Linked DNA regions of Homo sapiens: region 2 is linked to region 1. Evidence: fine-mapped expression QTL. A gene starts in region 1. The other region holds a variant in brackets. All regions are shown on one strand. Distances are from middle to middle.

Evidence for each region. PIP is the estimated chance that this variant, and not a neighbour inherited with it, causes the effect. A credible set is the group of variants that fine-mapping cannot tell apart.
Region 2: its variant is the best candidate, but not a certain one, in a credible set for the expression of EIF3B in lymphoblastoid cells after a statin (CAP, PIP 0.79).

Annotation. Positions count from the first base shown.
Region 1 is chr7:2,352,407-2,356,406 of GRCh38, reverse strand. EIF3B (eukaryotic translation initiation factor 3 subunit B) reads right to left here and starts at 1,580. Exons shown (of 19, transcript NM_001037283.2): 1 at 987-1,580. The coding sequence starts at 1,485. It also overlaps a transcript of SNX8 not described here. RefSeq lists silencers at 1,124-1,233, 1,284-1,373, 1,554-1,693 and enhancers at 2,494-2,563, 2,234-2,789.
Region 2 is chr7:2,381,543-2,386,055 of GRCh38, reverse strand. It overlaps the pseudogene KIF19BP. Among named protein-coding and RNA genes, the nearest start is that of CHST12, 20 kb to the left of the region's middle. The variant G/C (reference allele first, on the strand shown) is at 1,805.

The DNA of each region.
Region 1 (4,000 bases):
GATGGTGACCTCGTGATCCACCCGTCTCGGCCTCCCAAAGTGCTGGGATTACAGGCGTGAGCCACCCAGCCCGGCCCTCTGATAGCCTTTTAAAAATACGTTTAAATCATAAATTGGCAACTCCATGTTATTCCCGAAATTGTCCTGGTGTATCGCTGGCTACATCAGCAAGGGTATTTTTATTTTTCTCACTCTAGTATCAACTTAGCCAATCTGCAGAGGCTGATGTGTTCCCAACTTAAAGGCTTAAGAGAGCTAAAAAACAAAAGAAAAACAAATGAGACCAGCTCTCATCAGAAGTAGCTTCAGGAAAAAATCTCTGAGACAGGAAGCAAAAATATGCCTGTAAATCCAATCAAGGTTGAGATGAAGGCAAAGCTGGCTGTTATCGGCAATATTAAAACCTGGAAAAATAACTCTCTTTATAGATTTAGCGCAAGAGATAAAGAAAAATCAAACTGGAATTTCACAGGGTGCCTGTCCCACTAAGGAAGTCTCTGGAGATGGACAATTCTGAGGGGCAGGAGGACAAAATCACCGGCTCTGCCACAAGCTGTTCCTCCGATCCAGACCTTGGGAGGTCTGACTGGTCAGCTCTGGGGACACGTAGACCCGCAAACCTGCCACCGGGTCTTCGGTTTTTGCCGTACCCCCAGCTGCTACACTCACAGCACACCCAGCCATAACGGAGTACCCCATGTGCCCTCTCCCACCCTCTCAGATTTCTGGTTGTCATGCAAATGCCTGGCTCCCGAAGTGAGCTCCACCCTGTCCCCTTTTTCAGGAAAGAAAAGGGGAGGCGCTGGGCTCTCAGAACACTTCCAGGGCACTCGGGAACCCCTCCCTCGGTGGCTTCTCAGGAACACACGGACACCCTCGCTGGAACTTCTGCACGAACCGGTGGCACAGCCCGACGATATCTCCCACCTCGGGAACCCCAGCCACGCTCCCGCGCCGCTCGCCAGCCCCGCCCCGGGCGCCCTCACCTTCCTCGCTCACGTCGTCCACGAAGTCCTCGGGGTCGCTGAAGGAGGGCTCGTCCGCGTCGCCGTTCTCCAGCGCCCGGGGTTCGGCCTCGGCCGCTCTGCCCTCGTTTCCTCCCGCGTCCTCGGACACCGCCTGGGCCCGGCTGTCGGAGCGCTCGTCCCGAGCCTGCTCTCCTGGGGCCTCGCCCTGTGCCGGGACAGGGGGCTCAGCATGCGACCCGGGCAGCTCCTCGGCGGCCGGCGGCGAGGGCGACTCGGACGGGCCGGAGGCCGCCTCTGCCTCGGCCGCCGGCTCGGTCCTCACCTCGGACTCCGGCCCGGCCTCCGCGATCCCCACCTCCTCACTGGAGGCCTCGGTCCCCGCGGCCTCCGGAGCGCCGGGCCCCGCGGGCCGCAGCAGCCCCTCGGCTGGCGGCGGCTCGGCGGCCGGCTGCTGCTGGCCGGGCTCGGCGCGCTCCTCGGCCGCCTCGGGCACCGCCACGTTCTCCGCGTCCTGCATGGGCCCAACGCTGCCTACTCGCAGGGCTCCGCGGCCGCCGCGCTTCCGACTCTCCCAGGCCGCACCGCGCGCCGCGACGGCTACAGCCCAGCCATGTGCGTGCGACGGGGAGGCCGCACCAAGGCCGCGGGGCGGGGGGCGCACCCACGCCCTGGGGCCTCACGAACGACCCTGAGAGGACTCGCATCCACAAGACCGCGCCCGAAAATCATCAAACTGATATATTTGTGACAAGAAAGTGCTTAATTCCATTCAGCAAGGTTGTTTCTGTGCATCAGTAAACTCATGGGAGCATTGACCACCCCATGTGTGGCAGCAGATGGTTCCGTCCAACATGGCGTCCTCCCCCTTTCCTTTCCCGTCGGACGCTGCGGGGCGGGACTGAACTATTTGTGGAGCTGAAGGCGGGGACAAGAAATGATTTTAGTACCCGGAATGCTAGGAAAATGTCCTCTAACTCAACAGTTAATACCCTGGAAGAGTGGAGACTCAACAGGCGATTGCTCAGGGCGTCTGAGCCTTTCGCTAGGGAAACCGTTTAGTTTACGTTACTAAAGTCCCCCCTGTCCGTGTCTGTCACTTGGACTCGCCTACTGACTGAGCAAAAGGACAGACTACTTCAAAATAGAAAAGGAATTCGGGGCGAGCCAGAGAGGGCCCACACGACTAGAAGGACGACTGCCTGGCGCGATACAAAAATGTATGGAAGTTTCTTTAATCGCTTACCCCCAGTCCTTCCCTAGCGGCCGTCACTGCCTGTTTCCCCCCATTCGGGCTTTCACAGTGGTTCAGTCCATCCGAGGCCGCCGCCTTCAGCGCGGGACAGCGCGGGTCACGTGGGGGCGGGGGCGGGTCCTCGCCGCGTGGAGCTCGAGGCTGACTCCGGAGGGACCGGAGCGGTTCGCTCTGCGCGGGTGCTCACGGGACGGGCATTGGGTGCATGTGGCTTCTATCTTGTTTTTTGCCGGAGTGGAGGACAACCACTGGTTGGGGGATGTCTTAATCATCCTAGAAAACAACCCAGTGGATCACGCCTGTTATCCCAGCACTTTGGGAGGCTGAGGTGGGAAGATCGCTTGAGCTTAGGAGTTGGAGACCAGCCTTGCCAACATAGCACCACCACCCCCCGCACGCCAGCCCTCATCTCTACGAAAATTAAATAAATAAATAAAACAGGTGGTACCCAGAGGCTGGGGTGGAGAGTGGGGAGTGTTTATCGGGGACGGACCTTCAATTTGGGAGGATGAGAACGTTTTGGAGATGACGGTGGTGATGGTACAACATGGTGAATGTACTTGATGCCACTGAACTGTATACTAAACTTCATATTAAAATGGCTAGGCCCTGCGCGGTGGCTCACACCTCTCTTCCCAGTACTTTGGGAGGCCAAGACAGGAGGATCACTTGAGCCCAAGAGTTCAAGACCAGTCAGGGCAACATAGCGAGACCCTGTCTTCGAAAAAATAAAATAAAATGCCAAAAAGGTAAATTTTATGTATATTTCATCCTATAGTTTTTTTGTTTTGTTTGTTTTCAGAGATAGGGTCTCGCTCTGTTGCCCAGGCTAGAGTGCGGTGGCATAATCACAGCGCCGCTGCAATCGGGACCTTCCAGCCTCAAGAGAATCCTCCCACCTCAGCCTCCCAAAGTGCCAGGATTACAAGCGTGAACCACCGCGCAGGGCCTAGCCATTTTAATATGCAATTTAGTGTACAGTTCAGTGACATTAAGTACATTGCCAAGTACTTGGGACTGAAGGTATGTGCCACCGTGCCCAGCTAATTTCTTTATTTGTAGATAGCATCTCACTGTGTTGCCCAGGCTGGTCTCAAACTCCTGGCCTCAAGCAGTCTTCCTCCCTCAGCTTCCCAAAGTGCCGGGACTATAGGCATGAGCCACCACACCCATCCCATCCTAACGGTGTTTAAAAGAGCGAAAAAGAAGCAGAGTCTTCCCATGCCTAGTACCAGGTTTGACTACTCCTCATCATGCTGTCAGTGGTGTATCTTTGGGCAGGTCACTTAATGCCTCCACCTCAGTTTCCGCATCTGTACAATAAGGGATGACAATTTTTTTTTTTTTTATTTAGACGGAGTGTTGCTCTGTCGCCTAGGCTGGAGTGCAGTGGCACGATCTCGGCTCACTGCAAGCTCCACCTCCCGGGTTCACGCCATTCTCTTGCCTCAGCCTCCCAAGTAGCTGGGAATACAGGTGCCCGCCACCACGCCTGGCTGATTTTTTTTGTATTTTTTTAGTAGAGACGAGGTTTCACCGTATTAGCCAGGATGGTCTCGATCTCCTGACCTTGTGATCCGCCTGCCTCGGCCTCCCAAAGTGCTGGGATTACAGGTGTGAGCCAATACGCCTGGGAGTATGTTTTTTCTACATATGCATGCTTACAATAGGGCACAGTAAGAGATTAACAGCAATAACTAATAGAACAATTATAACAATATATTGTCATAAAAGTTATGTGGATGTGGTGTCTGGTGGTGTGTCTGTGTCTCTCTCTGTC
Region 2 (4,513 bases), 29 kb before region 1:
ACTCCCCCTGGGGATGTCTGTGCACCTGATCTTCTGTCCATTTCATCTTCTTTTTTTTTGTTGTTCTTTTTTTTTTTTTTTTTTTTGAGACGGAGTCTCGCTCTGTCACCCAGGCTGGAGTGCAGCGGCGCAATCTCGGCTCACTGCAAGCTCCATCTCCCGGGTTCATGCCATTCTCCTGCCTCAGCCTCCTGAGTAGCTGAGACTACAGGCACCTGCCACCATGCCCACCCAATCTTTTTTATTTTTAGTAGAGACGGGGTTTCACCGTGTTAGCCAGGATGGTCTCGATCTCCTGACCTCGTGATCCACCCACCTCAGCCTCCCAAAGTGCTGGGATTACAGGCATGAGCCACCGCGCCTGGTCCATTTCATCTTCTTTTTTTTTTTTATTTTATTTTATTTTTTTTTTTGAGACGGAGTCTCGCTGTCGCCCAGGCTGGAGTGCAGTGGCGCAATCTCGGCTCACTGCAGGCTCCGCCCCCTGGGGTTCACGCCATTCTCCTGCCTCAGCCTCCCGAGTAGCTGGGACTACAGGCGCCCGCCACCTCGCCCGGCTAATTTTTTGTATTTTTAGTAGAGACGGGGTTTCACCGTGTTAGCCAGGATGGTCTCGATCTCCTGACCTCGTGATCCGCCCGCCTCGGCCTCCCAAAGTGCTGGGATTACAGGCGTGAGCCACCGCGCCCGGCCGTCCATTTCATCTTCTTGCAGACGATGCCCTGAGCCTCCTGACCTGGGACCAGGACTGGTGCCCCCCTGCCCAGCGGGGAGCTCCCTCTGACACACCCAGGGTCCCCTGCCCCTGAGTGCACATGACTCCCAGGGGCCATGTCTCCTTCCTTATGAAGCTGCCTCTCTAATGACGAACGGGAAAACCTGATCCACTTGGCGACACTGAGTTCCACCCCACACTGGGCATTTCTTCTTATGAGTGACCACCGAGGCCATAGACATCCCTAACCTGTGGCAACAGCTTGGCTTCTGAGCCTGCTTCAAAGTGGCAGAGATCCCCGTGCTGGACAGCATGCTGGCGCCCTTCCCTGCTGAGCTGCAGCCACCCAGGCCCTTTCCAGCCACACAATTTCAGAGCCAGGCCTGCTGAAGGCTCTGCCCTCCTCCCAGCCCCCTCCCTGCTCTGTGGCCCTGCCACATGCTCCTGCTGGGGGGCTCCAGCCTGCTCCCCTGCCCTGACTTTGCCCACCCCCACGGGCTCTGCTGTATTCTCCTGGTGGCACTCATCTCTCCCTTTGTGTGCCCCGAACCCTGACTAGAAACTGGGCCCAGTGGGGTGGGCATGGTGTCAGTCTTAGCCACACCTCCAGGACAGAGCCCCATCTGTGAGCTTGTGACAGCAGGGAGCCCCCTGAGCCCCAGCCTCACCTGGTCCCCCACTTTGTGGGCGATGACCGCGGCTCCCTCCTTCAGTTCTGCGTCATTGAGCGGGTGGATTCGAAGTGCCACCTGCAGGCAGTCACCAGGGCGGCTGCTCTGGGATCTGCTCAGTCTCTGTGAAGAGGTGAAGGCAGCAGCTCAGCCCCGTGCCCCTCAGGGTGGGCTCTGACTTCACTCCCACGGGGCTGCCCGTGCCCCCAACAAGACATGGCCTCCCTCACTGAGGAGATGGGGAGGTTGAGGCACACAGCAGGGAGCGCCTGCCCAAGGCCTTGCCTCCCAGTCCTGCCACCTCCAGAAGAGATGCTGAGCTCCTTCATGGGAAACTTCCCCAAGGGGAAACTGGGGGCCTTGCCATCCCCACTCCCTATTCTGAGGGCCAGATCCCGGCCTCAAACCCACCCAGCTG[G/C]ATAGTAACTGTGGCCCCAGGACGCTTGTTTCCCCCTCTATAAAAGGGACACATTTTTTGGTAGAAACAGCAGCTGTGGCTGAGGGACAGTCATGACTGGCATCTCTTTTTACCCAGCTACAGCCCTGGGGCAAGTCCCCAGCTCAGCTCACCGCTGTCCAGTTGGCGGAGGCTCTGAGTCCCCCAGCAGATGGCCTGGATTGGGCCCAGGGAGGGGGCTGGGGAGCCCAGAGCCCGCACACCCAGGTGCCAGCAGCATGGGGATTAGGGGTGGAGAGGGTGTCTGGAGGCTCAAGGCGGGGGTGCGGAGGCAGTGGGGAAGAGCGGGGCAGCTAGCTCCCAGCGAGGGAAAGTTGGGGAGTAGACCGGGCTGATAACAGAGCAGAGGGGTCGCCGGGGTTGCAGGCTTGGGAGGCGGCGTCGGGCACTCGCAGACTGGGGGGGCGGGAACACGAGGGAGGGCGCTCACCATTAGTGGCTGGTCTTTGGGCTCCATCTCTCAACGCCGGGCTGCCCCGGGCCGGGGAGGGACCTGCAGCCTGGCAGGAGGGTATGGGCAGCGGGATGCGCTCCCTATCACAGCAGAGATGAGACCTGCCTGCGCTCAGCCCCGCTCTGCTCTGCCTAGGTGACATCAGCTGGGCCTTGGGGAGCCGGGCTGGCACCACTCATGTGGTTGGGGCCTCAAGGAGCAGGGTGGCCCTCTCGATCACCTTGGCACACAGGGACAGCGCCAGACGCTACAGCAGCCTCTATCTCCACCCTCACTATGGCAACCCCCGGTTTCCATGTGCCTCACCCGGTGCACATGAGCCAGCCTGACACCCACCAGGACACAGGTGGAGGGGCTGCCCCTCTTCTTTGCAGGGTGGGTCCCTCTACCACCTTGAGCCCAGGAGAGGCGCTGCCCACCTCAGGGCCCCTCACACAGAAACCAGGATGGCCCTGGAGCTTTTCCCTTGAAGCAGACAAATGGCAGCAGCTGAAACTTCACACAGCAACTTGAGCAACTTCGACTGCAACTGCCGTTTCCAACGGCGACTATGTTTCTTTTTTTTTTTCTTGTCACCCAGGCCGGAGTGCAGTGGTACAATCTTGGCTCACTGCAACCTCTGCTTCCTGGGTTCAAGCAATTCTCCTGCCTCAGCCTCCCGAGTAGCTGGGATTACAGGCACCTGCCACAATTTTGTGGCTCATTTTTGTATTTTTAGTAGAGATGGGGTTTCACCATGTTGGCCAGGCTGGTCTCGAACTCCTGACCTCAGGTGATCTGCCCGCCTTGGCCTCCCAAAGTGCTGGGATTACAGGCGTGAGCCACCCGCGCCCGGCCCGCGACCACGTCTCCTCCCCTTTCCCAGTAAGCGCTTGATTGGCTCTCAGGTGTATTCAACACCTAAAGGCTGTGCTCCTTTTCCACTGCAAGCCCGGGGAAAGGCACCGCACCGTGAACCTGCTCCCCAAGGTCACCTGACCCGTCCAGGCTGAGCTAACCAGAGTGCAGGACGACACTGCCCAGAGCCAGGGTCGGTGCCAAGCACAGAAACCCGCTCCTGCACTGACAGAGATCACGCCAAAGCCAGGCCGGGCGTGGCACACGCCTGTAATCCCAGCTACTCGGGAGGCTGAGGCAGAATTGCTTGAACCCGGGAGGTGGAGGTTGCAGTGAGCCGAGATCACGCCATTGCACTCCAGCCTGGGCAACAGAGCAAGACCTTGTCTTGACAGAAAAAAAAAAAAAAAAAAAAAGTAAAGAAATCACATTAAAATCGGATCCAAGCTGTTCAAGCCTGGCCAAGTCCAACTTCATGATGCCAACCACGGAGCTGAAAGGGCCCGGGGGTCCATTCCCGCCAGAGTGGGCGACTCAAGCCCTCCCAAGAGCCACCATGCCTTTCCCATAAGCCGACTGCCTGGCAGCTCAGCTGTGCAAGGCCAGGGCATGTTTTTGGCCACATCCATCTCTTTCTTGGCATCCGGGTCAACACTGTGCAGCAGGAAACCCCAGCCAGGTGGATTCGGCTACCCCTCCAACAACCACATCCCTGTCCTCTAGGAGGATGAGGCTCCAGCGTCTGACCACGGCACTTGCCGGGAACACGTTTACAAGTCCCCGCGTTCTTGCCTGCCTCAGCCTCCTGAAACACAACCAAGGCCATGCCTGCAGCAGGGGTCCCAAACACCCCCCCCCCCCGATGTCCTGAGCCCGCCAGCCGTGGGGACCCTGATACCCAGGAAGTCCCTCCACAGCAGGCCGGCTCTGGGAGATCCATGTCTACCGTAGCAAAGTTAAAACCAACGCAAGGGCTTCAGAAATCCTTTACGAATTATATGAAACAATGACAACTAGTACATTTAAAACAGTGGAAAGTTAATTTTTTTTAGAATATCTGTTAAAAATCTGTCATATGGTAGAACTGTGTGCCTTTCTTCTTTCGATGAAATCAGAAAAACTTTCTCGGCACACTAGAATTTAAGCAGCAAGAGTATAAACAAGAATTACTAATAAAATGTGCACTGGAGGGACACAGGATGAACGGCAGGACTGCGACAATTCTAGAACTGTAGAATCGCAGATGAGAGAAATGTAGGGCTCCCAAAAAAGCAAACGCACCAAGGCGCCCTCCTCACACCTGGGAGACCCAGTGTGACCTGAGGCTCTAGGCCACTCCTCCAGGGTGGCAGGAGCCCGGGTCCTCTGCCCTGTGAATT